4 separate regions of the Homo sapiens genome follow, and regions 1, 2 and 4 are each linked to region 3. The links come from fine-mapping of genetic effects on gene expression. A gene starts in region 3. Each other region holds a variant in brackets. All regions are shown on one strand. Distances are between the middles of the regions. Region 1 overlaps WDR88 (WD repeat domain 88). Region 2 overlaps FAAP24 (FA core complex associated protein 24). Region 3 holds the start of LRP3 (LDL receptor related protein 3). Region 4 overlaps WDR88 (WD repeat domain 88).

Region 1 (8,103 bases), 33 kb before region 3:
AAGAGACCTTCTGTCTGATGGTGCCAGAACAAGTCCCAGGGAAGACTCCCATTGGCTCAGCTTGGGACACATGTCCATCTCTTAATGAATCACTTAGGGGGCAACGAAAGCCTCTGATTGGCCAGGTCTGGGTGACTTGCCCACCTGCAGAGCTAGGGTTGGGGTCAGAACCCCCTGATGCAGAGGGACTAAGAGTAGGCAAGGAGTGTTTCCCCACAGGAAATTGGGAGCTGTTGCCAGATAAAGGGACATAGAGGTGAATGGGGGCAGTGACAGGAAGCCACCGCGGCTAGCCAGCTCCAGGGAGGGAAGTGGGTGCTCTTGACACTCAGGAGCCAAACATATGCTCCCCTATCCTGGTGAGAAGTGGGGCTTGCTCTGTGTGTCTGGGGGCCTCAGCTGGCACACATGCCACTGGGGCCTGGCTTGAGAAGCACTAGGGTGCTTCTGGGCAACTTTCCCTCTTCAGCAGCACCCCTTGTCTAAGTCCCACTGTGAGGCACCCTGCCAGCTTCTGTCCTTGGCTTTATGGGGTTCAGAATCACATGCAGTTGAGCCAAAATTGTGCCACTGCGCTCCTACACTCTAGCCTGGGTGACGGAGTGAGACTCTGTCTCAAAAAAAGAAAAAAAGAAAGAAAAAAAAAAGAATCACATGCAGTTAATCATTATTATTCCTGATTCTGTATTTGTGAAGTCACCTACTTGCTGATATTTATTTGTAAACCTAAAGTCAACATTCATGGCACTTTCAAGGTCACTCACAGATGTGAAGAGCAGCAAAAAATCTAAGTCACCTCCCAGCTGAGGTTGGACAAGGCAACACTCTGCCTTCTTGTTTCACCTCCCACGTGGTAAAATGTCCTTTTTGTGGTCTATTTAGTGCCACCATTTTTTTTTGTTGTTGTTTGTTTGTTTTGCTCCCTCTGTTGCCCAGGCTGGAGCGCAGTTGCGCGATCTTGGCTCACTGCAACCTCTGCCTCCTGGGTTCAAGCGATTCTCCTGCTTCAGCCTTCCAAGTAGCTTGGATTACAGGTGCGCACTACCATGCCTGGCTAATTTTTGTATTTTTGGTAGAGATGGGGTTTCGCCATGTTGTCCAGGCTGGTCTTGAACTCCTGTCCTCATGTGATCTGCCTGCCTCAGCCTCCCAAAGTGCTGGGATTACAGACGTGAGCCACCACACCTGGGCTTTCTTTTGCTTTTTGTTAGTGATTTTGCTGTGTAAAATGGCTCCCTTGGCCGTGTGTGGTGGCTCACAGCTTTAATTTCAGTGCTGGGGGGGTGCTGAGGCGGGAGTATTGCTTGAACCCAGGAGTTTGAGATCAGCCTGGGCAACATAGTGAGACCCCATCTCTACCAAAACAAAAAAAAAAAATTTAGCCAGGTGTGCTGGCACCTGCTTGTAGTCCCAGCTACTTGGTAACTGAAGTGGGAGGATTGCTTGAGACCAGGAGTTTGAAGCTGCTGTGAGCTGATTGCATCACTGCACTCTAGCCTGGGTGACAGAGCAAGACCTTATCTCTAAAAATAAATAAATAAATAAATAAATAAATAAATAAATAAATAAATAAATAACAAATAAAATGATCCCTAACCACAGTGCCGAAGTGCTGTTTGCCGTTCCTAAGCGCGAGAGTGCTATGATGGGGAAAATGCATGCATCCATTCAGGCATGAGTTACAGCTGTTGGTTGTGAGTTCAATGTAAACAAATCAACAGTATATATGCAATAAGGTGTCTTTAAACAGAAACACACATAAAACAAAGTTACGTACTGATCAACTGATGAGAATGTGACCAGAGCTCGCAGGAAACTGACCCTGTATTTCCCCTAGGAGCGATGGTTCAGTATTCACTAATTCAGTGTCTGCAAAAACTGCAGAGGCCCCCAACCTTTCTGGCGCCAGGGACAGGTTTCATGGAAGACAACTTTTCCACAAATGGGAGCTGTGGAGGATGGTTTCGGGATGACCCAAGTGTATTACATTTATTGTGCCCTTTATTTTTATTATTATTACATTGTAATATATAGTGAAATAATTATACAAGTCAGCATCATGTAGAATCAGTGGGAGCCCTGAGCTTGTTTTCCTGCAACTAGATGGTCCCATCTGGGGGTGATGGGAGACAGTGACAGATCATCAGGCATTAGATTCTCATAAAGAGTGCACAACCTAATCCCTCGCATCCGCAGTTCACAATAGGGTTCATGCTCCCGTGAGAATCGAATGCTGCAGCTGATCTGACAGGAGGCCGAGCTCAGGTGGTAATACGAGCGATGGGGAGTGGCTGTAAATACAGATGAAGCTTTGGCTTGCTTGCCTACCACTCACTGTCTGCTGGGTGGCCTGGTTCCCAACAGGCCATGGATTGGTACCAGTCTGTGGCCCAGGGACTGGGGACCCCTGTCATAGAACATGACTACTGTAAATGATAAGAATCAGCTGTAATTGGCTTGGGGTCGTGGAGCCACTCCAGGAAGGGGTTTCAGTGTTGTCAGAGTGAGATGAGGTGGTGCCTCGCCAAGGCATCTTCAGCTGGCTTTGGGCTCACTTGGCTTGGAAAGTTGACCCCCATCTCCACCCTTTCATTTTCTGTTGCAGGCTCTTTTCTCATTTCTGGAGGGTTTGATAGGACTGTGGCTATTTGGGATGTAGCAGAAGGCTACCGGAAGCTCTCTTTGAAGGTACATGTGGCCAGCATGAGATTGAGGATCTGAACTTCCCTCCCGAGTCCTTCCTGTGCTCAATGCTGGTTGCTGGGGACACAGCTGTGAGTGACACAGGCCTTGATGCCTCTGTGGGCTGATGAAGGACAGACAGGAAGCCAGCAAACACACCACCGACTGTGAGGAGTGAAATGGAGAAACCACAACAGGGTGACATGATGGGGACAGAGGCGGGGGACCCATCCACATTGCATGGGCAGAGCTTCCTGGAGAAGGAGGTGTTTGAGCTGAGAACAGAAAGGACTACATAAGTGGGGATCTTGAAGAAGAAGGGCAGTCCAGGCAGATGGAACAGCTGATGCAAAAACCCTGAGGTGGGAGTGTCTAAGAACAGCAGAAGTTACTGTGCAGGCCTGGGCACTGTGGCTCACTCCTGTAATCCCAGTACTTTGGGAGGCTGAGGTGGGCGGATCACCTGAGGTCAGGAGTTTGAGACCAGCCTGGCCAACATGGTGAAACCCCCGTCTCTACTAAAAATACAAAAATCAGCCGGGTGTGGTGGTGCAAACCTGTAGTCCCAGCTACTTGGGAGGCTGAGGTGGGAGGATCGCTTGAACCCGGGAGGCGGAGGTTGCACTGGGCCAAGATTGTGCCACTGCACTCCAGCCTGGGCGATAGACTGAGATTCTGTCTCTAACAAAACAAAACAAAACAAAAAACAGAAATTACCTTGAAGAGAGACGCATGCCCTAGTGAGGCATGCACAGAAAGCTTGGGGTTCCAAAATGGGGATGTCAACTGAATGCTCTGGGCTACAAGTGAGAGGATGAGAGGAGCCCCAACTCAGAGTGGCTCTATGATACGGGGATGTGTTATCCAACACAGCAAGAACCCACAATTGCCTCATGCTGTGCCCCTGTTCCCCCAAGGGGCCCCACACCCCAGGATTTCTGCATACTCCCTGGTTTCAC[G/A]ATCTCACTGTCACCTTTGGCTGTGAATGCGTGCATCCCTGATTCTTGGTCTTTCTGTTCCCAGGGACACAAAGTAGACATGTGTCCTTGAGCAGCCCATATTCAGGTCCCTGGGGCTGGTCTATCTGAGCTGTCTTCTCCTAGGACTTGGGGAGACAAAGCGAGTTTCCTCACAGCAAATAAACGGATTAAAATGGAATGTTAAACCTCTCTGTGCTTAAAGTCCCTCTGTCATCTAGGCACAGTGGCTCATGCCTGTAATCCCAGCACTTTGGGAGGCTGAGGCTGGAGGATCATTGGAGGTCAGGAGTTCGAGACCAGCCTGGCCAACATAGTGAAACACCATCTCTACTAAAAATACAAAAATTAGCCAGGTGTGGTCATGCCCACCTGTAGTCCCAGCTACTTGGGAGGCTGAGGCATAAGAATCTCTAGAGCCTGGGAGGCAGAGGCTGCAGTGAGCTGAGATTGCACCACTGGACTCCAGCCTGGGTGACAGAGCCGGTTGTTCTATTCTCTCTCCTCTTCTCTCCTCTTTCTCTGTGCTCCCATCCTCAAATTCCTGTCCTTTAATTACACTAAGCGGTTTAACCTTCCCTCTGATTCCTTTTTCTCTAACCACACTATGGCCTCACTTTCTGCCTCTTTCCATACGGGGAAGGCCAAAGAAGGACAGAGATGCTGGCATAAAGCCCAGACATCATTCAGTGTCTGAGGCAGCAATGGCAGCTATCTGCTCTGAGCTGTTTTTTTTGTTTGTTTTTTTTTGAGACGGGAGTCTCGCTCTGTCGCCCAGGCTAGAGTGCAGTGGCATGATCTTGGCTCACTGCAAGTTCCGCCTCCTGGGTTCACACCATTCTCCTACCTCAGCCTCCTGAGTAGCTGGGACTACAGGTGCCCACCACCATGCCCGGCTAATTTTTTTTTTTTAAATTTTTATTTTTTAGTAGAGATGGTGTTTCACCATGTTAGCCAGGCTGGTCTCGATCTCCTGACCTCGTGATCTATCCGCCTCGGCCTCCCAAAGTGCTGGCATTACAGGCATGGAGCACCGCGCCCGGCCTGCTCTGAGCTCCTATGTACCCAAAGAAAACACCCCACTCCTTCTCTGCTTAAGCCACAGTGGATCGAGTTTGCAGTTATTGGAAGCGAAAAGCCCCCTCACTTACAGGGCCTCTGAGGGGTATTTCCTAGAACAAAGAATGCAAATGAAAACCTGAGACCAGCTGGGAATATAATATTTCTCCCCCAATCTTGCTAAACACCCGAGTACTATTTTAAAAAACCATACACAGTGGCACACACATTTGTAGTCCCAGCTACTCGGGAGGCTGAGGCAGGAGAATCACTTGAGCCCAGGAGGTTGAGGCTGCAGTGAGCTATGATTGAGCTGCTACACTCCAGCCTGGGGGACAGAGTAAGACCCTGTGTCAAATAAAAATAACTAAATAAATAAATATAGAATGGGTAGGGCGCAGTGGCTCATGCCTGTAATCCCAGCACTTTGTGAGGCTGAGGCAGGTGGATCACTTGAGGTCAGGAGTTCGAGACCAGCCTGGCCAACATGGTGAAACTCCATCTCTATTAAAAATACAAACATTAGGTGGGGTGTGGTGGCTCACGCCTGTAATCCCAGCACTTTGGGAGGCCGAGGCAGGCAGATCACGAAGTCAGAAGATCGAGACCATCCTGGCTAACACAGTGAAACCCCGTCTCTACTAAAAATACAAAAAATTAGCCGGGTGTGGTGGCGGGCGCCTGTAGTCCCAGCTACTCGGGAGGCTGAGGCAGGAGAATGGCGTGAACTTGGGAGGCGGAGCTTGCAGTGAGCCGAGATCACACCACTGCACTCCAGCCTGGGTGACAGAGCGAGACTCCGTCTCAAAAAAAAAAAAAATTAGCTGGGCATGGTGATGGGCACCTGTAATCCCAGCTACTTGGCAGGCTGAGGCTGGATAATTGCTTGAACCCAGGAGGTGAAGGTTGCAGTGAGTGGAGATTGCACCATTGCACTCCAGCCTGGGCGACAAGAGCAAAACTCTGTCTCAAAACAAACAAACAAACAAACCCCAAAAAACAACAACAACAAAAAAAATAGAATGTACATATATCACATGTCTTTACACTTTGTATTCCACCCTAAATGTTGTTGATGAAACCGAGGAAGTACAATGAGCTGCTCTGCTCTTTCCTTTTTTTTTTTTTTTTGAGACAGTCTCACTCTGTTGCCCAGGCTGGAGTGCATGATCATGACTCACTGCAGCCTCAACCTCCCCGGGCTCCGGTGACTCTCCCACCTTAGCCTCCTGAGTAGTTGGGATTACAGGCGCATGCCACCATGCTCGGCTAATATTTTGTATTTTTAGTAGAGATGGGGTTTCACTATGTTGCCCGGGCTGGTCTCAAACTCCTAGACTCAAGCAATCTGTCCACCTCAACCTCCCAGAGTACTGAGATTACAGGCATGAGCCACTGCACTCAGCCAGCTACTCTTAAATGTAAGCAACACTGGGTTCTTGACTTTTTGTTGTTTTTTTAGATATGGGACCTCACTCTGTTGCCCAGGCTGAAGTGCAGTGGTGCAATCATGGCTCACTGCAGCTTCCACCTCCTGGGCTCAGGTGACCCTCCCGACTCGGCTTCCCAAAAGGCAGGTTACAGGTGTGAGCCACTACACCCAGCTTGTTTTTGTTGTTCTTTCAAAATTATTTTCTCCACGTTTTCATTAAAATTTGATATTTCTTCAGGGCCATAATGACTGGGTGATGGATGTTGCCATTAGCAACAACAAGAAATGGATCCTGTCTGCTTCCAAGGTAAAAGTGGTCAAGCTTACAATATCGATCACGTTCGCCAGGATTGGTGATAGTGGAAGAGTTATTGCCAAGTATAAAATTCCTGGGTGGGTTCGGTGAGCTGTACCTGACCGGGCCATCGTGTTCACGGAGCTGCCTGGGAATGTGGACAGCATGTCCTTCTATGCGCAAACGCGATGAGTTTGGAGTTTCCAGGTATTTCTGTGTCTGTACCGTTGACATTTGAACTTTGTTGGAAAAAGAGTCTGGCTGGATCAGTGAGCAATGGAGCCAATGGGGGACTTGAAGGGAAAGCATCAACTCATGGATAAGCCTTTGACACTGCCCAAGGTCCGGGGGGGTCTCCCTTTCCTGCAGCACTGCATCTTGAGATTCCCATTCCACTGGCACATAGCAGCCAGCCCAGGATATCCCAACAGCTGTCCTGCAGGTGTGAACCCCGGAGAAGTGGGGACCTACTCCGCCCTCCACCCATATTAGAGCAGCAGTCCCCAACCTTTTTGGCACCAGGGACCAGTTTCGTGGAAGACAATTATTCCATGGTTGGGGGGCGGGGGATGGTTTTGGGATGGTGCAAGAGCATTACATTTATTGTGCACTTTATTATTATTACATTGTAATATATTATGAAATAATTATACAACCCACCATTATGTAGAATCAGTGGGAGCCCTGAGCTTGTTTTCCTGCAACTAGATGGTCCCATCTGGGGGTGATGGGAGACAGTGACAGATCATCAGGCATTAGATTCTCATAAGGAGCACACAGCCTAGATCCCTTGCATGCACAGTTCACAATAGCCTTCGTGCTCCTGTGAGAATCTAATGTGGCCACTGATCTGACAGGAGGTGGAGCTCAGGTGGTAAAGCTAGTGACAGGGAGCAGCTATATATACAGATGAAGCTTCACCCCTGCTCACCTCCTGCTGTGTGGCCCATTTCCTAACAGGCCACAGACTGGGGGGTCGGGGACCCCTTTATTTGAGCATGTCATGTTCTAGGCTAGAGGTTTCTAAATCCAGGAGACTGTGGGAGAGGCGCTGCCTAGCATGATCAACTTTTCAGAGAGCCAACTTGGAATACAAACATATCAGAAAAAAAAAACAACAAACCCATAATAATACAATATATAGCAAAAGATTATATGCCTATATGTTACTACTTTAATATAAAAATAAGAAGTAAAGGTTTACTTGAAATTATACATTATTTTATATTTTTTACTTTTTTGTTCCATGAATATTATTATTTAAGCAAAACAACAGGACTAGTGAACAGCGACAATTAGTAGTAATTAACAGTAGGGCAAATTAAACAAATATGTTTGAGAAAAATATAAAAATATTGGCCAGGTGAAGTGGCTCACGCCTGTAATCCCAGCACTTTGGGAGGCCGAGGCGGGTGGATCACCTGAGGTCAGGAGTCCGAGACCAGCCTGGCCAACGTGGTGAAGCCCCGTCTTTACTAAAAATACAAAACTTAGCCGGGCGTGGTGGCAGGTGCCTGTAATCCCAGCTACTCGGGAGGCTGAGGCAGGAGAATTGCTTGAACCCGGGAGGCAGAGGTTGCAGTGAGCCGAGATCACGAGATCAAGCCATGGCCCTCCAGCCTGGGTGACAAGAGCGAAACTCTGTCTCAAAAAAAAAA
Region 2 (8,095 bases), 220 kb before region 3:
CACCTTCGTGGTAGTCCTGTCCTCATGGACACTCAGCTGCTCTCCAGAAGCAACCATCAATCCAATCTATGTCATTCTCTGACTTGGTTTATAAAATCTCTTCGAGGAATTTAAATGCGGAAGCTGCCTCTGCAGCCAGCTCAGCTTGTCACACACTCCAGGCAAGTGTATCACAAAGTATACAAGTTGGAGACCTGATTTTAGATTCTCAGGGTGTGATGGCTCCATCAGTCATTATCCTGCCCTTTCGCTGGTGAAAACGTCAACCTAGAGGCCAGGCGTGATGGCTCATGCTTGTAATCCCAGCACTTTGGGAGGCGGAGGCGGGAGGATCACTTGAGGCCAGCAGTTCGAGACCAGCCTGGCCAACATGGCAAAACCCTGTCTCTACTAAAAATACAAAAATTAGCTGGGCGTGGTGGTGGGTGCATGTAATCCCAGCTACTCCGGAGGCTGAGGCAGGAGAATCACCTGAACTGAGGAGGTGGAGGTTGCAGTGAGTGGAGATGCTCCATTGCACTCCAGCCTGAGCAACAGGAGCGAAACTTTGTCTCAAAAAAAGAAAGAAAGAAAGAAAATGTTAACTAGAAGCTGCTTTGTCTCATCCCGTATTTTTGTTAAGCATCAGCACCTTGTGCAAGTTTTTTTTTTTTCCCTTTTTTTTGAGGCGGAGTCTCGCTCTGTCCTACAGGCCAGAGTGCAGTGGTACAATCTTGGCTCACTGCCATCTCCACCTCCCGGGTTCAAGCCATTCTTCTGCCTCAGCCTCCCGAGTAGCTGGGACTACAGGCACGCACCACCACACCCGGCTAATTTTTGTATTTTTAGTAGACAGGGTTTCACCATATTGGCCAGGCTGGTCTCAAACTCCTGACCTCATGATCCGCCCACCTTGGCCTCCCAAAGTGCTGGGATTACAGGTGTGAGCCACCATGCCTGGGCAGTTTTTTTTTTTTTTTAGATAGGGTCTTGCTCTGTCATTCCAGCTGGAGTGCAGTGGTGCAATCTTGGCTTACTGCAACCTTTGCCTCCTGGGTTCAAGCGATTCTCCTGCCTCAGCCTCCCTAGTACCTGGGATTACAGGCACCCACCACCATGCCCGGCTAATTTTTGTATTTTTAGTAGAGATAAGAGTTTCACCATGTTGGCCAGGCTAGTCTCAAACTCCTGACCTCAGGTGATCTGCCTGCCTCAGCCTCCCAAAGTTCTGGGCCACCGCACCAACCAACACTTTTTTTTTTTTTTTTGAGATGGAGTTTCGCTCTTGTTGCTCAGGTTGGAGTGCAATGATGCAGTCTCGGCTCACTGCAACCTCCTCCTCCTGAGTTCAAGTGATTCTCCTGCCTCAGCCTCCCGAGTAGCTGGAATTACAGGTGCCCGCCACCACGCCCAGCTAATTTGTATTCTTAGTAAAGACGGGGTTTCTCCATGTTGGTCAGGCTGGTCTCGAACTCCCGACCTCAGGTGTTGTGCCCGCCTCAGCCTCCCAAAGTGCTGGGATTACAGTCGTGAGCCATCGCGCCCGGCCGCCAACACTTATTTTTAAAATCAGTTTAGTAGCTTACGCCTCTGATCCCAGCATGGGGAACATCAATTGTGTGTGTGTGTTGTTTGTTTTTTTCACTTTTGTTTTCTTTGTTATGTGTGTGTTGTTTTTAAATCACCCCCTCTGATGTGGAGCTAGAGTTGAGAGCCACATTGAAGATGCAAGCAGCCATGAATGGTTCACAGATCCCTCTCTACTATATCCCTTGCGTCACCGTTCCTAACTTTCCTTGATATAACACTGTTGTCTGCCTTAGTATAACCACCACTAACTAGACCAGGTTTCTCCTTTGAGGCAGGCTTCCTGCAGCTCCTGCGTGAAGTAGGCCTAGTTTAGGTGTAGCCATCATTTAATCCTGCACAACTGAAATGTTTCTTAATGGACCAACAGAAAGTGTTTGAATTCATCTGTGTGTTTTTCTAAACATTCTGAAAACGCACATTTTTGTAAATTAATGTCTTAACTCCTTTGTGTGGTTCACCTTTCAATAATTTTACTGATGTCTGAGAAATTATATTCATGATACATGAAAACATTTGTTCCCTTAAGTCAAGCTGAGCCAAATGGAAAAACGCAATTTCTACAAAACATATTTTAAGAAAACGGCCAGTCCTCCAGAGGGCGCTCACGTGCTGTTGCTTTCATTGTGGTTCAGGTTCAAGAGCAAACCAAAGAGCCCAGTAAGAACCCTCTTCTCGGGAAGAAACGGGCCCTGCTGCTGTCTGAGCCTTCGCTCCTTCGAACCGTGCAGCAGATCCCAGGAGTTGGAAAAGTTAAAGCTCCCCTTCTCCTCCAGAAGTTTCCAAGCATCCAGCAACTGAGTAATGCTTCCATTGGGGAACTGGAGCAGGTGGTCGGACAAGCAGTGGCACAGCAGATCCATGCCTTCTTCACGCAGCCCAGGTGAGGGCTGGCCTCAGGGCCACGGCATCTTCTCCTGAGACCACAAACACCAGGATCTTGTTTTCAGCTTTAAAAACCAAGAGAATGGGCCGGGTGCACTGGCTCACGCCTCTAATCTCAGCACTTTGGGAGGCCGAAGACAGCGGATCATCTGAGGTCAGGAGTTCAAGACCAGCCTGGCCAACATGGAGAAACCCCTAAAAATAGGAACAATTAGCCAGGCATGGTGACAGGTGCCTGTAATCCCAGCTACTTGGGAGGCCGAGGCATGAGAATCACTTGAACCCGGGAGGCGGAGGTTGCAGTGAGCTGAGATCGTGCCACTGCACTCCAGCCTGGGCACCAGAGCGAGACTCCGTCTCAAAGAAAACAACAAAAAAAAAAAAAAAAGAAAAAGGATTTTCTCCAGCAGCAACCAGTGAAAGATGAGGCGAGGCTTGAATGGAGCCCGTGGGTCGTCCTGCCTTAGCGTCTGAGTTCAGCTTGTGAAGTTAGTGGGCCGCAGAGGGCACTGCCTTCATTCTGCTAAGACGAAAAGGGCTGGTGGGATCTTCGCAAGAGAGTCAGGGACTCACACTCAGCAAAAAGCATTAGGGCCGATTTTAATGTGCGACCTTGACCTGCATCTGTCATGGAAAGTGCCTTCTAAAAAGCTTCAGTGGTGGATGTGACCATCTGAAGGAAACAAATGTACAAGGAAGCACTGTGTATCCTAAGCCCTGGGTTCCCAGAGTTTCACCTGCTGTTCATCAGGTCTGGCCTTCATATACCCGTACTGCGAGGGCTGTTTCCAATGTAAATAAATAACTGCGCAACAGTTCCTTC[C/A]TCCTTTCCTTTGTTCCTCCCTCCCCCCGGCCTTTTTTTTTGGCAGATGTACAGTTTGTTTATAATCACTGCATATGTCTTCTGCACACAGAAAGTATGAAGTCTGAAGTTCCCACTTAAAGTTGAAAACTCAACGGCCGGGCATAGTGGCTCACACCTGTAATCCCAGCACTTTGGGAGGCCAAGGGGGGTGAATCACAAGGTCAGGAGATCCAGACCATCCTGGCCGACATGGTGAAGCCCTGTCTCTACTAAAAATACAAAAATTAGCTGGGTGTGGTGGCACACACCTGTAATCCCAACTACTCAGGAGACTGAGGCACGAGAATCGCTTGAACCCAGGAGGTGGAGGTTGCAATGGGCCGAGATTGCACCACTGCACTCCAGCCTGGATGACAGAGTGAGACTCCATCTCAAAAAAAAAAAAAAAAAATTTAAAGTTGAAAACTCAACATGCATGAGGCAGAACAGGCTGTGTTTGTATATGAAAGGCCCAACAATGGAAGGATACAAGAAAATGATGGCAGCAGCTGCATCTAGTGAGGGAAGCAGGGGCTGGGGATCAAAAGGTACAAATTGCCCATTCAAAAAATAGACACAGGCCAGGCACAGTGGCTCACACCTGTAGTCCCAGCACTTTGGGAGGCTGAGGTGGGAGGATTGCTTGAGTCCAGGATTTCGAGATCAGCCTGGGCAACATGGCAAGACCCCATCTCTACAAAAAAATCAAAAAAATTAGCCAGGCATGGTGGCTCATGCCTGTAGTCCCAGCTACTCAGGAGGGTGAGGTGGGAGGATTGCTTGAGCCCGGAAGGTTGAGGCTGCCATGAGCCACAATTGCGCCACTGTCCTCCTGCCTGGGTGACAAAGCGAGACCCTGTCTTGAAAAAAAGACAAAAACAAAAAATAAGCACAAAGATACCATCTGTCTTAGAAAATACTAAGATAACTTGACAGCTTTTTAAGTTCTGCTTTGTGAAATGTTAGTAACTAAAAAAATCAGAACATTAGAAACTGTGTGCATTGGGGAGAAACAATTTGAAAGAGGAGGGAATGAAAATGAAATAAAAGTAAAAAGAAATATTAACTCGGGTAAATGAATATGTTTATTTAAATATGTATACAAGCATGGCCCTAGGAGCAGCAGATACACTTTCCCAAAGGTGGTTGCTTCCTTTAAGATATTGCACAATAGAAAATAAACTCTTGTCAATCCTTAAAATTAGTCTTCAATGCTATGTATTTTAGCTATGTAACTTGTACTGTGTCAACAGTGAACCTTATTAGATTCACGGTGTCATCGAACTTATAGCAAGATAAAAATCAATCAGTAGGAATGTCATTTTAAAAAGTAAAATAGTGGGACGGTTGTGGTGGCTCATGCCTGTAATCCCAGCACTTTGGGAGGCTGAGGTGGGTGGATCATTTGAGGTCAGGATTTCGAAACCCGCCTGGCCAACATGGTGAAACCTCACCTCAACTAAAAATACAAAAATCAGCCAGGCATGCTGGAGGGCACCTTGTAGTCCCAGCTATTTGGGAGGCTGAGGTAGGAGAATCGCTTGATCCCAGGGGGCGGAGGTTGCACTGAGCTGAGATCACACCACTGCACTCCAGCCTGGGCAACACAGCAAGACGCTATCTCAAACAAAAAAAGGAAGTCAAATAGAGCTTTAAACCTGAATCATTTACATCTTTACTTTATAAAATGTAAAACTACTTTTTTACCCAAGACTTAAAATATAGAATTATGTAACTTCTACTTTAAACAAAATGAAAAATGTTTTGAGTATCAAACAGTATATTATCTACCTTGTAGACAGCATCTTCATCTAACACTGCCACTGTGTTAGTAATTCTTAAATGACATCAAACTAGAAGAAAAGCTGCTCCTACATTGTTTTTATTTAATAAGACAAATTTGGCACTAGACTTTTTCTAGAAATAGCATTCATAGTCTATCGATATAATAGTAACATCTTGTTTTAGGTTAATGAATTCCTATTAGGAAGCAGCACTTTGGGACAGTTTTTAGTGACACTAATTTAATTCTATCATTACAGTCCTCTGACCTGCCTTAATTCCAGGATCATCTGAATTCTAGGTTAAGGAATGATTATTAGCCAAACCTGGAAACAACTACAAATTGTACTGATATAGGTAACCCCAATTTAATAGTGACTAAAAGTCATAATTGTCACCATTAAAAATAGCCATATTTCATATCTTCAACACTATTCTATTTACAATACTTTATATAATAAATAACTTACAGCAGTATAGTAACACACCTCAAAAAAGTTCTTTTTTCACTAATTCCTAGAGGTTTCTTGGTTACTTTCCTTCATAAAAACACATCAAATGTGAGTTTACACTATGAGAAAAACAGGATTTGAGAACAGATAGATAGATATTTTCCATTATGGCACAAACGTTTAAGGCCGAGTCAGCACCGGAAATGTTCAGGGCCTGAACATGTTTGTTTCCTCACATTAGTACCAAGAACTGTCTGAGTTGAGAAGGCTGAAAGGGGAGGGCAGCTTCTTCTTGACCTGAGGCCGTGCAGCCCCGACCGATGGGAGGCACAAGGTGCTGGCTGACTTCTGTCTGTTCTTGTTGGTGCCCCAACTCAGGAAGGAAAGCTTCTTGGAGATTTTCTTGGTTTTATCAGTTTTGTCGTCATCATCAATGGCTAAGCAGATCATGGAGTACGTTTTCTGCATTCCCACGGAGTATGTGGCACTCTTATTATGCTGCACATAGAAAAGTAAGAAAAAGGGCGTCAGGCATCATCAAGATAGATGATAAAAACTACGAAGTTTGGCCAGGCGCGGTGGCTCACACCTGTAATCCCAACAGTTTGGGAGGCCGAGGAAGGCGGATCACTTGAGGTCAGGAGTTCAAGACCAGCCTGGCCAACATGGTGAAACCCCATCTCTACTAAAATACAAAAATTAACCAGGTGTGGTGGTGGATGTCTGTAGTCCCAGCTGCTTGGAGCCTGGGCACAAGAATCACTTGAACCCAGGAGGTGGAGGTTGCAGTGAGCTGAGATCACACCACTGCACTCCAACCTGGGTGACAGAGCAGGATTCTGTCTCCAAAAAATAAATTGAACAGACATAATTCGGAAACTCAGGTGACCAATGCTTATATAGAATTAGGTTCTTAAAACAAGGACAAACTTTTTTTCTTTTTTGAGACAGGGTCTTGCTATGTTGCCCAGGCTGGTCTTAAACTCCTGGGCTCAAGCGATCTTCCTGCCTTGGCCTCCTGAGTAGCTGGGGCTCTAGGTGTGCACCACCAGGTCCAACAAGGATAATTTTTTGTTTGTTTTTTGTTTTTGTTTTTTAAGACAGAGTCTCACTCTGTCGCCCAGGCTGGAGTGTAGTGGTACGATCTCGGCTCACTGTAAGCTCCGCCTCCCGGGTTCACGCCATTCTCCTGCCTCAGCCTCTCTGAGTAGCTGGGACTACAGACACCCGCCACCACACCTGGCTAATTTTTTGTATTTTTAGTAGAGACGGGGTTTCACCCCTTCTCGATCTCCTGACCTCGTGATCCGCCCGTCTTGGCCTCCCAAAGTGCTGGAATTATAAGCGTGAGCCACCACGCCCGGCCCAACAAGGATAATTTTTAAGGAATGTACTCAATAGTAACAATTTAAGCTTAGGAGCCACAACTCATATTTTAAGGTTCTTCTTCTATTTGAGAAAGTAATAATACTCATGGTCACGAATATGAAAGTACAGGGTGGGGCGCGGTGGCTCACAACTACAGTCCCAGCTACCTGGGAGGCTTAGAGGGGAAGATTGCTTGAGCCCAGGAGGTTGAGGCTATAGTGAGCTGTGATTGTGCCACTGCACTCCAGCCTGGGCGACAGAGTGAGACCTCTGTCTCAAAATAAAAAAAAAGGGGGGGGGCGGGGGGAAGGGAAGAGGGGAAAGGAAGGGAAGAGGGGAAGGAAAGGGAAGAGGAGAAGGGAATGGAAGAGGGCAAGGGAAGGGAAAAAAAAAAAAAGAGTATGCAGTGAGCAATAGGTCTCCCTGTCACCTGGGCTTCTAAGGCCCTCCATGTTATACTTCTAGAGATGATGTACAAGTATTTCTATATGTACCTAAGTATATTACCATTCATTTTCTTAAAAGGAATATACTACACTATTCTACACCTGATTTTCTTTTTTTCTTTTTTTTCTTTTTCCTTTTTTTTTTTTTTTTTAAGATGGAGTCTCGCTCTGTCGCCCAGGCTGGAGTGCCATTTTTATCATTTTCAAGTGTAGAGTTCGGTGGCATTAATTACATTCACATCATTATGCTCCACTGCCACCATCCATCTCTAAAACTTTTTCATCTTCCTCAGCTGAAACTTTGTACCATTAAACACTCTCTACTATTAACTTTCCAAGAATCATGTAGGATTCAAACTGGAAATCTAAGGAAGCTTGCTTTCTGAAGACTTCCACATGGGCTATCACCGGCTTCTAAGGTTTGCCTAACATTGAGATTGTTTAGTTCGCCACATGTTTATTGATGGTCTACTATGTTCTGGCACTAAAATTAGGCATACAATATATCGCTGCAATAGTTGAGGACATTGTTCCTAATATAAACCCTAAGAGGGGCCGGGCACAGTGTCTTACACCTGTAATCCCAACATTTTGGGAGGCTGAGTTGGGCAGATCACTTGAGGCCAGGAGTTCAAGACCATCGTGGCCAACATGGTGAAACCCCATCTCTACTAAAAATACAAAAATCAGCCAGGTGTGGTGGTGCACACCTGTAATCCCAGCTACTCAGGAGCTGAGGCAGAAGAATCACT
Region 3 (8,103 bases):
AGAGAAGGGGCAGATGTGGGGGTGAGGGGTGTCTGGTCTATGGCTCAGCTAGAATAATGAGAGGTTTGCCCTCTTGGAAGTCACCTGTGATAAACTTGGGCATAAAGGTGATCATAAAACAATTTTTTTCAGTTTTATTTGCCAAAGCCACTTTTGGCCTTTGACCTTCAAATAGATTGTAGGATTTTTGTTGTTGTTGTTTTTGAGACAGAATCTCACTCTGTTGCCCAGGCTGGAGTGCAGTGTGCGATCATGGCTCATCGCAGCCTCAAACTCCTGGGCTCAAGCAATCCTCCCACCTCAGCTTCCTGAGTAGCTCAGACTACAGATGCATACCACCACACCCAGCACATTAAAATTTTTTTTTTTGTAGAGCCAGGGTCTTGCTGTGTTGCCCAGGCTGGTCTCGAATCCTGGCCTCAAGTGATCTGCCCACCTCGGCCTCCCAAAGTGCTGGGATTACAAGTGTAAGCCACTGTGCCTGGCTGGTTCTAGTTATTTGAAATCAGGAAAGACACTGACCATTCAACACAGAGTCCTCTTCATTAGTGTCTGGTAAGCAACTGGATAAGAGAGCGCTTGAGTTTGCATCTGCCTGTGGGTGAATGTTGGGGGAGGATGTGGGACTCTCCTGTGTCATTGGTTTCTTCTGTGTCCCACGAGGGCTCGGGGTATGTGGCTGATGAGTGGGCAATGGTGGTGGCCCTCTCGTATGGGATGGAGTGGGGACTTACATGGGATGCCTCTGTGTCCCTTCCGTCTCCTCTCTGCATGTCCTGTGGCTCCTCACTCCTGCAGCAGATTCCTGAAGGCGTCACTGGCCCACAGTGACTGTGACAGCAGCTTTGCTTCCTCCTAACTGGGAAGGCCAGCTTCTTGCCAGGAAGCCCCTGCTCTCATGTCTGAGCCCTCTGCCCCACCACTGCTCCCTCACCTGCCCCAGCCAGTCAGTTCCCATATTCTGGGTCCATGCCCACCATCTCCTTCCCAGTACTGAATTCTCCAATGGTTAGAAGCTTTTGGGTTGTGATGAATAGACACGTTCTGGATATAGCTTGAGTCAATGAGGGAGGTTTACGAAAAGGTTTCAGAGGTGGAGAGACCCAGGCGATTGCAGCTAGCGTGGAAGAGTGTTGAAGCAGAGACAGGAATACCAGGAACCTTTCCAGATGTGGTGAGAGGGCGGTGGGGGAGAGGACTGGGCCAGAGCTGCATTGGGGACCCCCAGCAAGGGTCTTGCCTGGCACAGCAACCTCTAGGGGGCACTAGACCATCATGAGACAAACGGGAAATGGGGTGTCAGTTATGGGCCGGGGTCTCAATATGGGCCGGGAGTAGGATAGGGCAGTGAGGCACTCACCTTGGGCACAGAATTGAAGGAAGTGCCAAAAAACTCAATAATGAAGATAAATCAACTTTAATGCAAATTTTTTGTGTGTGTGCAATGGGGACAGTTGTTTCCAATCAGCCCAAGGTTCCTGGGTACCTTGGCCGTTTCTTGCCTTATGGGTTTATGAGGGTTCACAATGGGATGTGCATAGATTGGGGAGCATGGAGATTTAGATATAGTCATGTGATTGTAGAGCTTTTCTTAGCCTTTCCACTTGGTTCAAAATATGGGAGGATATTTTGATAAGTGTGTCTAGGGGCTCACATTTTTCTTTTGCTTCAGGCTCCAACATGATTCCCATATTGGTCATTGGTCTGGACCCTAGATTCCTTACATAACGTGCAAAACATGCATTGAAGCAGGCAGCATCTTCAACAAAACCGCATATTTTGGCCAGGTGTGGTGGGTCCTGTCTGTAACTCCAGCACTTTGGGAGGCTGAGGCAAGAGGATCCCTTGAGTCCAGGAGTTTGAGGTTGCAGTGAGCCGTGATCACACCACTGCACTCCAGCCTGGGCAACAGAGCAAGACCTTGTCTCTACAAAAAAATGAAAAAATTAGCCTGACATGGTGGTGCACACCTGTCATCCCACCTACTTGGGAGGCTGAGGTGGGAGGATTGCTTGAGCCCAGGAGTTTGAGGGTACAGTGAGCTATGGTTGCAGCTCTGCACTCTAGCCTGGGTGAAAAAGTGAGACTGTCTCTAAAAAAACTAAGAAGCAGCAGCAGCAGCAGCAACAACAACAACAACAACAACAAACGAACAAACCGCAGATCCACCCTACCATTGCCCCTGCCTCTGTTGAGCATTTTTGCCATGCGTAAATAAATGCCTGCTCATCCGCAGTCAGCAGTCTGAGGAAATTCTGAAACCAAATTACACATAGGCTAGTGCTCTATGCCATCAATCTGTAATGTATCTTGTTATTTGATTTTTACGTCCTTTAATACATTTCCTAAGAAGTCTGCTTTGGAAAAATCACCAAAGGAATTAGAAGAGAGAGAATAAGAAAACCCAGAAAAACTAAAAGGATTTTTCTTCCCCCCATTTTTTATTAAAATCCAATCAACCTGCACAGTGCGAGTGAGTGAGTGACTGTCTACGCTTTCACTAACGGACCATCAGTTTCTCTCAACCTTCTCTCCATAAACGGAGAATATCAAATGAGGGTCTGGGGGTGTTAGAAAAGGGTTGGGAGCCTCAGCTCAGGTTGGTGGGCCCGCTGTGCCATGGAGCCTTTGGGGACCTCTGATTTCACATCCGTCTTGGCCCTAAATGGCCTTCTCAAACCTTCCCCCTGTCTCTCCTGGTTCTTGCCTCATTGGACTCAACCTCTTGGTGGGCAGCTCTCCAGAGGGCACCCCCAGCCTAAGAAGCAGGCCTCCTCCCAAGTCCCCAGCCTCACGAGGATAGTGGGTAACAGGGTGGGCTCAGGGGGCCCTGGGAGATCTCCAGAGGCCTCTGGTGTGTTCACCAATGTCCCCTGACAGGTCTTGCTTGGCACAGGGGGTTCCTCTTAGAGACGTGACAGGGCACTTGGACTGTGGCAAATGAAAGAAGCGGAGGGGCAGGAACAGGGACACCTTGCGAAGAAGACAGGCCTTAGCCTTGTGCCACCCCTATGAGGTCCCTAAGCCGTCCTCTCTCTCCCACCTTTTCCCAGTCCTCGCTCCCCGGTCCTCCTCAGCACAGCCGGCTCCAGGAGGGATCAATTCGTGGGCCCGGGAGGAGGCCAGGCGAGCACCGGCTGCCTGGAGCACTGGGCTGGAGCGCGGGGAGCGCGGCGGGGGGCGCGGGCGGGGCGGGGCTGGTGCGCAGAGCTGTCCAGCACCCCGAGGCGGGGCGTGCGCCCCCGGCCCGCCCCAGCCGCCTCCGCCCGCCCAGCCAGCGCCACTGCGGCTCGGCGGGCGCGTCACGTGGCTGGCGCAGCGCGGCCTCCAGGCTCCGGGCGCGGGCGAGGGGCCGGGCGGGAGGACTGACAGACCCACGGACGCTCTACCGGCGGCACCCGGCCGGGCGGGCTGGGCGCAGCGCGGGGCGGCCCGGGGACGCCGGGGCCGGGCGGGCTGCGCGCCGCGGGGCATGGGCGCGCCGGGGGTCCCCGGGCCCAGGCCGGCCGCGGCGGGGCTCCCGGGGCGCGGGGGCAGCGGCGGGCGGGGGTCTTCCCTGGCGGCCGCCGCTGAGCCCCCGCAGGGCCCGTGACGCCGCGGCCGATGTGGCCGCGCGCGCCCTACGGGCCTGCACCGCCACCGCACAAAGACGCCTCGGGAGCCGCCGCCTGCACCCGGGCCGCAGCAGCCACGCCAGCCGGAGCCCGAGCCCTAGCCCGAGCCCGAGCCCGAGCCGCAGCCAGAGCCAGAGCCGGAGCCGCAGCCGGAACCGGAGCCGGAGCCGCGGGGCAGGAGGCGGCGCCCGCGGGCGGCCGGGCCCGGCATGGAGAAGCGCGCGGCCGCGGGGCTGGAGGGCGCGCCGGGCGCCCGGGCGCAGCTGGCCGTCGTCTGTCTGGGTGAGTGGGCCGCGCGGGCCGGGCAGGTCCGGGTCCCCCGCATGGCAGTCCGCGCCGCGCCCTGACCGACCTCCTCTCCGGCCGCGGCATCCCGAGCCCCCCACCGCGGTGGCTCCCGCGCGGAGACCCAGAGAGGGGCCAGCACCGCTTGCCCGCCTGGCCCCGGGCCTGGGAGGGCGACTCTGGTGGCGCAGCCCCGGCTCCCGCCCCGCTCGGAGTAGCGCCCGGAGCCCGGGCTGAGCGCTGGCAGGAGGCCCTTCGTGCAGGCGGCAGCCTTCAACCCGGCCCGCCCGCGCTGAGCCTGGAGACGAGGGGGCCCCGGGAGCTGGGGACAAAGGCCAGGCCGGCTGTCCCCTGAAGAAGAAACTGTTTCCGGCCCGGAGTTGGGGTGGGGGCTGGTGTAAGCCGCAGATGGGGACTCGGGGTGCGGGGCAGGGCTGGAGGAGGGTGCCAGTGTGGAGGCGGCTTCCAGGGGACTCCTGTTTTCCCTTTGTGTCTCTCAGCCCCCAGGCAGGCCTGTTCAGTTTAGGAGGGTGCTTGGGTTGGGCCAGGGACCGGTCAAGGCCAGGCATGGGGTGGGAGGGGCTCCCGCCCTGTCCGGGAGTTTTTCTGTCCAGCTTTCCAGCGCTCTGTGTAGGCGAGAGGAGGAGTTAAATCCCCAACCCACATGGCTCCTTTATTTACTGTGATGAAGGAGGGAGGCCATTATAAGAACTGGGGGTCATTAGGGGACACCCTGTGATGTCACCAGTGAGGGCTCTGTAACCTGACAGGTTTGCTGAAGCCACTGAAATGACAAAGTAATCACCCCCAGGCCTCAGGGAGCTCCGAGGCTCTGGCAGGCCCTTGCCCCAGCTGTGTGAGCCTGGCTCAGTGGGAATGTGCCATTGGGGAGCATTGAGGGTGTAACCCCAGCGCGCCCACCCCAACCTCAGTGCGGGGTCATGTGTGCTGGGCTCTGAGCTGCTGGGTGCTGGCATCCCTGGTGAGCAGAGCAGGGGGACAGGCGCTCCATGCTTAGGAGCTTTGGCCTGGCTCTGTCCAGGGGGCCTGGGTGTCCTGGGTGGGGGCAGCGGTTCCTGCTTCCTGGCCAGGCGGGATCTGACACACATCCTGAACCCCGGGAAGTTGGGTTTCCCCCCACCCCCCGACTCTGGGCCCGTAACCCCCCGGGCCAGAGCAGAAGGTGAAAGTAAGGGCCAAACCCCACGGAGGTGGGTGCTTGAGGGGTGGCTGGGGAGTTCTGCTTTCCTCCTCAAAGTCAGCTTGGCACGGGGGAAGAGGATGGTTCCGTCACTAGCTGCGTGCCCTGTAAATGGGGATTATCAGAACTGCCTCCCCTCCTGCCTCTGCTGCTGCTGGGCGAGCAAAGCCCCTTGGTAGGGGGAAGCCCTTCAAAGTTGTAGGAGCAGGCCAGGGTGCGGTGGCAGGTGCCTGTAATCCCAGCACTTTGGGAGACCAAGGCAAGAGAATTGCTGGAGGCCAGGAGTTTAAGACCAGCCTGAGCAACACAGTGAGACCTCATCTCTACAAAAATAAAAAATAAAAAAATAACCAGGCATAGTGGTGCACACCTGTAGTTCCAGCTACTTGGGAGGCTCAGGTGGGAGGATTGCTTGAGCTCGGGAGTTTGAAGCTGCAGTGAGCTATGCACTCCAGCCTGGATAACAGAACATGGAGGCAGGGAGGTGGGGGTGAGGTGGTAGGGACCCTCTTGATGGGCAGTCTTGGGCTGCGCTCTGGGCCTTGCCCTGTAAGAGGAAGGGGACCAGCGGGCCAGCCTTGGGTTTAGCTGTGGTGTCCCTCATGGGCTGCTGCTGGTCCCCAGCAGGTATGTGGGACCCCTGACCCTTTCTTTGTATCTCCCACAGTGAACATCTTTCTCACCGGGAGACTCAGCAGTGCGGTTCCTGCCTTAGGTAAGTAAGCACTTTCTCTCCTTCCTCCACTCCTTCAGTCCCTTTTGGGTGAGTGGTCCCTGAAGACAGGCCTTCAGGGTCCTGGCACTACCCCGAGTTCCTGTGTGCATCTTTTCTACATCACAAAGGAGCTGTTTGGCTTTGGACAGGCTTCAACTTGTCTGAGCCTCAGTTTCCTCATCTGTAAAGTGGGTGAAATAACAAGGTCTACTCAAAACCTGTCTCTTAGTATTCCATGAGCCAGTGAGGCAAGCTCTTAGTGTGGTGCCTGGCACGTGGTGGCTTTATACCACCGGCAAGCTGCCGAGGGTCCCGTGGAATTGACATCTTGTGCCTCATTGCAGGCCATGAGCTTCCTAGGATTTAATTTATAGGAGTATGACTGAGGGGTGACACAGAGAGGCCCATGCCAGGGAAAGAAGGCTTTATTAATTTTCTTGAAAGGAGGGGACATGCCACGCCATGCAGGGCCACCTGGGAATTACTAGATTTGGACAAGCAGGAGCAGGGGTGGAAGAAAGGTGTAAGTTAGAAGCTGCATCACAGCTTCCGTGGGAAAGTCTCGACATCCAGGTGCTGTGGCTCACGCCTGTGATCCCAGCATTTGGGAGGCTGAGGCAAGAGAATGCTTGAGCCCTGGAGTTTGAGACCAGCCTGAGCAACATAGTGAAACTCCATCTCTACAAAAAAAATCTGAAAATTAGCTGGGCACGGTGGCATGTGCCTGTAGTCTTAGCTACTCGGGAGACTGAGGCAGGATGATTGCTTGAGCCCAGGAGTTTGAGATTGTAGTGGGCTATGACGGCTCCACCGTGCTCCAGCCTGGGTGACAGAGCGAGACCCTGTCTGTAAAACCAAAACCAAAACCTGAGGTCAAGGTGCAGCCCGGGAGAACAATGGGGGCCTCTGACTTGTTCGTTGCCTGCTGCTCTGCTCGGTGGGGCAGGAGGTGCCTGGGTTTCTAGTTCTGTGCAGGGCCCGGCTTGCTGGAGAAAGGACCCGGAGCTGTCAGGCAGCGGGACCCCTGCTGTGGTCAAAGGGGAGGCCCAGGGTGCACAGAAGCTGTGCTCACTGGCTCCTCTGGCAGGCTTGGGCCTCTTTCCCTCTCTCTCTGCCCTGAGCTGTGCTCTCAGGAGCCCGGCCTCCTCTGATGCTTCGGGCTGGCTCAAGGCCGGGCCTTGCTCAGCGCTGACCTAGCCCCAGCCCTGTCTGCTGTCCTGGTCCACACAACTGATGGAGGCCCAGTCTCCCATCCCAATTTCCAGGAAAAGGCTGACTGGCCCAGCCTGGGTCAGATGTCTGTGGCCATGGTAGAGTCAGGGGAAGGGGGAATGAGGGTGTCACAGCTTATGAATGTGAGCCCCAGGACACCCTCCTGCTGGTGGGTGTGTCACCCCAAATGTGTATATACTCCACTTTCAGAAAAGTGCTTCCCTGGGGACTAGGGCCAGTCATGGAGCTTGGGCGAGGAGGACACTGTCCAGGTCCTTGCGTTTGGTTGTCCTTAGCTGTCAAGACCTCAGGCCCCAGCAGGGTCCACGTTGCCAAACTCCAACGGCTGCTGTTCACCCCTGGTGCCCTCTGTGATGGGAGCTGCACGCCCAGCGCGCAAGGCCATGGGTGGTGATCTGGGACCCTAGCTGTCCTAGAGTCCACTTCTGACACCTCCAGCATTACTGACCACCTGCAGGTGGCCCAAGGTACCCACCTCCCACCACAGCTCCATGACTCTGCATTTCCAGAGCTTTCCCTGGGATTCCTGCTGTGTGGGACCCTGGATTGGGAAACATTCCCCCAGCCCCTTCTCCACCCTAACTAGGCTCAGTTGCTCCAGAGGGTCTAGCAGGGCTACCTGGGGACCTCACAGGTTTTTACCCCTCAGCAAACCCCATCCTAAGCCCAGGTATGTTGGGCCCTGACTGGTCAGAACACCTCCTGCATCCCCCCAGCCTCTGGGCTCAGCCCTGAAGCTACTGTGGCTCCAACGGGGAGGGCCTGGGCAGGGGCTTCATGCAGTTTGCAGGCAGCTGGCAGCTTCCCCGGCACGTCTGGGGTGGGACTCCCAGCTCCCCGTCGTCGGATTACACCAGGCAGGTTGGCGGGGGTATTGATCAACTTTGGAAATTGGATCTGCAAATTGTGCTTTCTCAGGCCTTGCAGTGTCCTCTCAGGAATATTTGATGACTCTTTGGACCAGGAAAGGACACTGGCCCGAAAGTACCTGGTCATTCCTTCCCTACTTGTGTGGGCCACCATGGCTCCGAGGGCCCAGGCCATCTTCTGCCTGA
Region 4 (8,103 bases), 43 kb before region 3:
GATTAGACAGGAAGTGGGGCTGAGGCCATGGGACAAAGGCCATGTGCCCCCAAGAACCAGGGTTCTGGCCCTTACCAGTCTGTTCTCTTTATATCTTGGAGGGGGTCACTCTCCGTCCATCCCACAGGCTCAAGACTCCCACTCGGCCCTGCACCCCTTCCAGGCACCCTCAGCTCTGCTCAGGGGCCTCCTCGGGGTCTCCTGCCTCACCCCTGCCGTCCCTCCCTCTCAGCTCCTGCAGGCCTTTTCTGTCCCTTCCTCCTTCCTTTCCTTAAAAAACAACCTTTCTTGTTAGTGCAAAGGTCAGTTTGTATTCATTGTAAACATTTTTAGAAAGACAAGATAAGCCAAGTTTTTATTTTATGATGACGATGATGATGATTTTTAGAGACAGGGTCTTGCAAGCTCTGTCACCCAGGCTGGAACACAGTGGCGCCATCGTAGCTCACTGCAGCCTCAAACTCCTGGGCTCAGATGATCCTCCCGCCACAGCCTCATAAGTAGCTGGGACTACAGGCGAGCACCGCCACACCTGGCTCATGTTTTACTTTTGTAGAGATGGAGATCTTGCATGTTTCCCAGGCTAGTCTCAGGCTCCTGGTCTCAAGCGATCCTCCAGCCTTGGCCTCCCAAAGCACTGGGTTTACAGGTGTAACACACCACACCTGGCTTAAAACAACCTTTTGATTGCTGGCTCATTTCAGTGGAAGGTCAGGTATGATACCTTCATCGTCTCCTGTAAGTTTTCTCCTGATGGTAAATACGTGGTCTCAGGCTTCGACGTGGATCATGGAATCTGCATAATGGACGCCGAGAACATCACCACCGTTTCCGTCATCAAAGGTGAGGGTGTGCGGGCTCCCTGTATCTTCAGTCTGCCATAGGAATAGCCACTTGTCACTGACTGACGGTGACCTTCCATTGCTTTATTTGGTGAAACTGTAATGGTATGAAGCACGTCATTAAAGCTGGGACACTAGGCTAGGTGCGGTGGCTGGGATTGCATCTGTAATCCCAGCACTTTGGGAGGTTGCTTGAGCCCAGGAGTTTGAGACCAGCCTGGGCAACAGGGTGAAACCCTGTCACTACCAAAAACAATACAAAAATTAGCCAGGTGTGATGGCATGCACCTGTAGTCCCAGCTGCTTGAGAGGCTGAAACGGGAGAATCACTTGAACCCGGAGGTGGAGATTGTATTGAGCTGAGATTGAGCCACTGGACTCCAGCCTGGCAGACAGAGTGAGACTCCATCTCAAAAAAACAAACAAACAAACAAAAAACAAACAAACAAACAAAAAAACACACCAAAACTGATCCTCTTCAGTTAATGCTTTTCCATTCATTCAGTCTTGTGCTTTTAACAAAGGACACAATGTTCGGCTCCAACCTCATGTGGTCATTGACAGCCTAATCTTTTATTGAGGGGAGGCTCAGGCTTCTTAACATTAACATTAACAGAGTTAACATTAACAGAGTCTTGCTATGTTGCCCAGGCTGATGTCAAACTCCTGGCCTCGAGGGATCCTCCTGCCTCAGCCTCCCAAAGTGAGGGATTATAGGAGAAGCCCCCTCACCCGGCCTACCTGTATCTTTTTTTTTTTTCTTTTTTGAGATGGAGTCTTGCTCTGTCTCCTAGGCTGGAGTGTAGTGGTGCGATCTCGGGTCACCTCAACCTCCACTTCCTGGGTTCAAGCAATTCTCCTTGCCTCAGCCTTCTGAGTAGCTGGGATTACAGGCACCCACCACCACGCCCAGCTAATTTTTGTATTTTTAGTAGAGATGGGGTTTCACCATGTTGGGCAGGCTGGTCTCGAGCTCCTGACCTCAGGTGATCTGCCCGCCTTGGTCTCCCAAAGTGCTGGGATTACGGGCATGAGCCACTGTGCCCAGCCTATTTTTAAAATATAGGACTTAGTAATTGTTGTATGACAGTTTCCTGGTTGGGACACTGTGTGATGATGATACCACATGTTCCCATGGGGGCTGCTGGGTGAAGGACATGGGTGATTTCTCTGTTATTCCTTACACCTCCATGGGAGTTTACAATTATCTTAAAATTAAAGTTAAAAAAATGTGTAATCATTGTAAAGACATTCATTATGGGCTGGGCGTGGTGGCTCATGCCTGTAATCCCAGCACTTTGGGAGGCCGAGGCTGGTGGATCACCTGAGCTCAAAAGTTCAAGACCAGCCTGGCCAACATGGTGAAACCCTGTCTCTACTAAAAATACAAAAATTAGCCGGGCGTGGTGGCGGGCACCTGTAATCCCAGCTACTCGGGAGGCTGAGGCAGAATTGCTGGAACCCAGGAGGTGGAGGTTGCAGTGAGCCGAAATCGCGCCTCTGCGCTCCAGCCCAGGTGACAGAATGAGGCCCTGTCTCAAAAATAAAAAAATCATTCATTATGTAAATAAAAAAGCAAAAGGCTGCTGTGTCTGTCCTGTCTCCTCCCCAGAGGCACCTGTTATGAACCATACATTGCTGGGCAGTCTTCCTGAACCCTGTGTGTATGCCTGTGCGTACAAGTGTTTGCACACACAACACTGCTTCTCATATGTGCTTTGTGTTTCTTTTTATCGATGTGGCACTATGCCATGTGCACTGCCCCACAGCTTCCCTAATAGCCCCTAAGAGCCCACTTGACACTCTGACCCCACCATGCTTCAGACTCCAGCTTTGCCCCACACTGCTCCATGATCCGGCCCAGGCCTTTGCAAGCACTGTTCCTTCTTCCTGGAGTGCTCTTCCATTTCTGCTTCCCTTGCTGGCTTTTCGGGCCCTTCCTGGACCCCTCAGGGTGGCCAGGCTTATGTTGTCTGGGCCTTGGTGGCCCGTGCACTCATCTCATGATCTGTGGCATGTGGCAGGTCGTTGCCTGGTCCGGGGTGTCTCCTCCATCAGACTGGCAGCTCTGCGGGGGCAGGGAACCTGCTGTGCTCCCGGTTCAAAGCCTGGGACATAGTAGTCACTCAGGAATGTTTGTGCAGGTGTGTAGCTCCTGATGAAAACTGGAATTGTGTTTTGTAATCGTCACTGGCTGGGGAAGTCGTGGGAGTCCTCCAGCCCAGCAGGTGGAAGGCGTGGTCTCAAGTCCCTTTCCTCCGTGTTCTGCAGATCATCACACAAGGTCCATCACGTCATGCTGCTTTGACCCCGACAGCCAGAGGGTGGCTTCTGTCTCATTGGACAGGTGCATCAAGATCTGGGATGTTACATCCCAGGCCACGCTGCTCACCATCACTAAGTGAGTTGGACCCCAGGAGGCCAGAAGGGAGTTTGGGTGGGGCGTCCCCATTCATGACTTCCTGAATTCCACATAAGCCAGCATCCATGTGGACACGTCTGTAGCTTGGTCATAGGTGCTCTGAGGAGGCTGGGGACAGGCAGGCAGGAGGGAGCCATCAGCTGTGGCCTGTGGGCTGGGCTGGGCCTCAGATGCATTTGTTTCAATGTGAGCCACTAGTGGAAATCATTGTGCAGAGAAGTCCACAAAAGGTGAAGTTCCAGCATCTCCTGTAAAATGGGAAGGTCTGGCTGGGCGTGTGGCTCATGGCTATAATCCCAGAGCTTTGGGAGGCCAAAGTGGGAGGATCACTTCAGGCCAGGAGTTCAACACCAGCCTGGGCAATGTCACAAGACCCCATCTCTACAAAAAATTTAAAAATTAGCTGGGTGTGGTGTCACACACCTGTAGTCCCAGCTACTCAGGAGGCTGAGGCTGGAGGATTGCTTGAGCCTAGGAGTTTGAGGCTGCTGTGAGCTATGATTGCACCACTGCACCCCAGCCTGGACAATGAAGTAAGACCCTGTCTAAAAAAAATAAATAAATAAAGTGAATTCAGTCGTTTTGGAGATATTACATTATCATTTAAAAAAATTTTGGGGCTGGGCTCGGTGGCTCATGCCTGTAATCCCAGCACTTTGGGAGGCCGAGTGGGGCGGATCACCTGAGGTCAGGAGTTCGAGACCAGCCTGGTCAACATAGTGAAACCCCACCTCTAGTAAAAATACAAAACTTAGCTGGGCGTGGTGGCGGGCACCTGTAATCCCAGCTATTCAGGAGGCTGAGGAAGGAGAATAGCTTGAATCCGGGAGGTGGAGGTTGCAGTGAGCCAAGATTGTGCCACTGCACTCCAGCCTAGGTGACAGAGTGAGACTCTGTCTCAAAATATATATATATATATATACACGCACACAACATAAAACATGATATTTTAACCATTTTTAAGTGTGCAATTCTCTGCCATTCATTACATTCACAGTGTTGTGC[A/G]ACCATCACCACTATTTATTTCCAAAATGATTTCATCATCTCAGACAGAAGCTCTTACCCGTTAAGCAATAACTCCCCATTCCCCATGCCCCCAGCCCTGGGTAATGTTTATTCTACTTTCTGTCTCTATGAATCTGCCTATTCTAGATATTTCATATAAGTAGAGTCATACATTATTTGTCCTCTTGTGATTAGGTTATTTCACTTAAAATAATGTCCTCAAGGTTCATCTGTGTTGTAGCCTGCATCAGAACATCAGAACTTCATTCCTTTTTTTTCCTTTGAGACTTAGTCTCGCTATGTCCCCCAGGCTGGAGTGCAGTGGTGCCATCTTGGCTCACTGCAACCTCTGCCTCCTGGGTTCAAGTGATTCTCCTGCTTCAGCCTCCTGAGTAGCTGGGATTACAGGCGCCCACCACCACACCTGGCTAATTTCTGTATTATTAGTAGAGACGGGGTTTCATCATGTTGGCCAGGCTGGTCTCAAACTCCTGACCTTGTCATCCACCCACCTCGGCCTCCCACAGTGCTGGGATTAAGAACTTCATTCCTTTTGATGACTGAATAGTACTGCATTATAGGTGTACATACCACATTTTGTTTATCTGTTCATCTGTTGATGACCTCTTAGGCTGTTTCTACCTTTTAGTTATTGGGAATAATGCTGCTATGAACACATGTACATGTAACTTTGAGTTCCTGCTTTCAATTCTTTTTATTTTATTTGATTTCGAGACAGAGTCTTGCTCTGTTGCCCAGGCTGGAGTGCAGTGACGTGATCATAGCTCACTGGAGCCTCGGATTCCTAGGCTCAAGTGATCCTCTTGCCTCAACTTCCTGAGTAGCTGAGACTACAGGTGCACACCACCATGCCTGGCTAATTTTTAAGTTTGTTTTTTTTTTTTTTTTGCAGAAACGGGGTCTCATTATGTCTCCCAAGCTAGTCCTGAACTTCTGAGCTCAAGTGATCCTCTCACTTTGGCCTCCCAAAGTTCTGGGATGACAGGTGTGAGCCACTGCACCTGGCCTGTTTTTAATTCTTTACTCTGTATACCCAGGAGTGGAATTGTTGGATCATATGGTAATACTGTGCTTAGCTTTTTCAGGAGTGGGGATCTTGCTTATTAATTTTGCACTGAGAACTGAAAATGATATAGCCCGACCGACATTATGAATTTTTTAAATCCTCTAGCAAGATCAGCTATATCATTTGCAGGGTGCAATCTCGGCTCGCTGCAACCTCCGCCTCCCGGGTTCAAGCAATTCTCCTGCCTCAGCCTCCCGAGTAGGTGGGACTACAGGCGCCCGCCACCATGCCCAACTAATTTTTGTATTTTTAGTAGAGACAGGGTTTCACCACATTGGCCAGGCTGGTCTCAAACTCCTGACCTTGTGATCCACCCACCTCGGCCTCCCAAAGTGCTGGGATTACAGGCATGAGCCACAGTGCCTGGCCACACTGTGGTTTTCATTTACACTGTCATTCATATTGTTTTTCTCCTATAGGTAAAAAGTCATTTCTCTCTTGCTGCTCTGAAGATATTTTTGTTGTCCTTAGTTTTCTGAAGTGTAATTATGTGTCTGGGTGTAGATTTCTTTGGATTTATCCTGTTGGGTTTTACTCAGATTCTTGAATCTGTAGGTTTATATATTTTGCCAAATTTGGTAAAATTTCAGCCATTTAAAAAAATTACTTTTAAAGTTGACTCCATCTTGTCCAGAACTGTACGTGCAGCATAGCCATTTTCCCCAAACTTCTGTACAGGTGAAATGGCCTTCTACGAGAAGTGGGATTTATGTGAAATGAGAGTCCATAGAGATACCTCTGGTTTATTTATTTATTTATTTATGTATTTATTTATTTAGAAATTGCTATGTCTTTTTTTTTACTTTAAGTTCCAGGACACATGTGCAGAATGTGCAGGTTTGTTACATAGGTACACATGTGCCACGGTGGTTTGCTGCATCTATCAACACGTCATCTAGGTTTTAAGCCCCGCATGTGTTAGGTATTTGCCCTAATGCTCTCCCTCCACTTGCCTCCCACCCCCTGACAGGCCTCAGTGTGTGATGTTCCCCTCCCTGTGTCTATGTGTTCTCACTGTTCAACTCCCACTTATGAATGAGAACGTGTGGTGTTTGGTCTTCTGTTCCTGTGTTAGTTTGCTGAGGATGATGTCCCTGCAAAGGACATGATCTCATTCTTTCTCATGGCTGCATAGTATTCCATGGTGTATATGTACCACATTTTCTTTATCCGGTCTATCATTGATGGGCATTTGGGTTGACACGAAGTCTTTGCTATTGTGAATAATGCTGCAATAAACATACGTGTGCATGTGTATTTATAGAAGAATGATTTATAATCCTCTGGGTATACCTCTGGTTTAAACCTCAATGACAGTGTCTGGCTGCTGGGAGAGCTTGCAGTCAAACCTCCATGATATGCCAGCATGGTTCTTAGCTCACCAGGCACTGGGAATTGGTGAGGTTTATCCCGGATGGCCCTGCGAAGTTGACATTTCTTCTCCTTTGGCGTTGCTCAGTTTGTGCCTTTCAAAGAACCAAAATGGGTTCCAAAACTCTGATCTGAGCTCTAGAAAATTGTTTTGCTCAACCTTTTCTTCAGGTCAAATGATTGATTTTATGATCCAGGCTACTCAGAGAAAACTCTGCTTACAAGAGGAGGTGAGAATCACAGGAGAAAGACATTGAGGGTTACAAACAAAAAGTGGCAAAATACAGACAGGCTTTTTATTATTATTATTTTTCTGAAAAAGAAGATGCTTAAAAATTGGAATGAATAACTTCATTTTTTTTCTGAGATAGAGTCTTGCACTGTTGCCCAGGCTGGAGTGCAATGGCACAATCTTGGCTCACTGCAACCTCCACCTCCTGGGTTCAAGTGATTCTCCTGCCTCAGCCTCCAGAGTAGCTGGGACTACAGGCATGTGCCACCATGCCCAGCTAATTTTTATATTTTTTGTAGAGATGGGGTCTTGCTATGTTGCCCAGGCTGGTGTCAAAATCCTGGGCTCAAGCAATCCTTCCACCTAGGCCTCCCAAAGTGCTGGGATTATAGGCATGAGCCACTGCACCCAGCCAAATAACCCACAATTTTATTAATTAAATATACAACACTGAAATATACTTGAATAGCACTGAAGACAAATGAGGATAGGAGTGAGAAAAAGGGAGAGTGAATAGTTGGGGTGGAGAAGCAGAGGAGTAAGTAAGAGAGGGGTGGAACAGGGGGAGACCACGCCTGACATTGTTGGGGGAAAGATGGGGAGCAGGAGAGAGCCTCTGTGTAAGCGCCACCCAGCACCAAGCCCCAAAGGCTGTCTGTCAATCAATCACTCCTGACACCAGCTGCTTTTCCCTCCAGCGCCAAGGGAATACTGCAGAATCTTCCCAAATGAGGGCAATTTGTGCCCCAGTGGACATTTGACAATGTCTGGACTCATGTTTTGTTGTCACAACTGGGTGTGGGGGTTCCTGGCATCTAGCCAGGAGAGGCCAGGGATGCTGCTCCACCTCCTACAGAACACAGGACGGCCCCCACAACTCTGAGTGACCCAGCTCAAAATGTCCACCTTGGTGTGGTTGGCCCAGTGCCGTGGCTCACGCCTGTAATCCCAGCACTACTTTGGGAGGCCAAGGCAGGTGGACCACTAGAGCCTAGGAGTTTGAGAGCAGCCTGGGTAACATAGCGAAACACTGTCTCTATTATTATTTTTCTAAAAATTGGTGCAGTCGAGAAATGCTGGAACAGCGTGACAGTCTGAGCAATTCACATCTGGACCATGGTAGGCAGTGATCAAAGGCATGATG

Evidence for each region.
Region 1: its variant is fine-mapped to the expression of LRP3 in whole blood (INTERVAL, PIP 0.93).
Region 2: its variant is fine-mapped to the expression of LRP3 in whole blood (TOPMed, PIP above 0.99).
Region 4: its variant is fine-mapped to the expression of LRP3 in blood mononuclear cells (TOPMed, PIP above 0.99). The same link has a PIP of 0.9 or more in whole blood.

The regions. Positions count from the first base shown.
Region 1 is chr19:33,157,809-33,165,911 of GRCh38, forward strand. WDR88 (WD repeat domain 88) reads left to right here. Exons shown (of 11, transcript NM_173479.4): 8 at 2,606-2,688; 9 at 6,389-6,457. It overlaps LOC124904691 (a long non-coding RNA gene), which reads right to left. Exons shown (of 2, transcript XR_007067228.1): 2 at 1,963-2,847. Among named protein-coding and RNA genes, the nearest start is that of TRT-AGT1-3, 15 kb to the right of the region's middle. RefSeq lists enhancers at 2,695-3,104, 3,448-3,617 and a cis regulatory region at 3,533. The variant G/A (reference allele first, on the strand shown) is at 3,642.
Region 2 is chr19:32,974,230-32,982,324 of GRCh38, forward strand. It overlaps FAAP24 (FA core complex associated protein 24), which reads left to right. Exons shown (of 5, transcript NM_152266.5): 5 at 2,202-4,000. The coding sequence ends at 2,453. It overlaps RHPN2 (rhophilin Rho GTPase binding protein 2), which reads right to left. Exons shown (of 15, transcript NM_033103.5): 15 at 4,363-6,027. The coding sequence ends at 5,767. Among named protein-coding and RNA genes, the nearest start is that of FAAP24, 6.0 kb to the left of the region's middle. The variant C/A (reference allele first, on the strand shown) is at 3,275.
Region 3 is chr19:33,190,963-33,199,065 of GRCh38, forward strand. It overlaps LRP3 (LDL receptor related protein 3), which reads left to right and starts at 3,368. Exons shown (of 7, transcript NM_002333.4): 1 at 3,368-3,896; 2 at 5,768-5,815. The coding sequence starts at 3,824. RefSeq lists enhancers at 6,582-6,641, 7,803-7,972.
Region 4 is chr19:33,148,068-33,156,170 of GRCh38, forward strand. It overlaps WDR88 (WD repeat domain 88), which reads left to right. Exons shown (of 11, transcript NM_173479.4): 5 at 705-843; 6 at 3,114-3,243. Among named protein-coding and RNA genes, the nearest start is that of WDR88, 20 kb to the left of the region's middle. RefSeq lists enhancers at 1-132, 3,215-3,384 and cis regulatory regions at 48, 3,300. The variant A/G (reference allele first, on the strand shown) is at 4,270.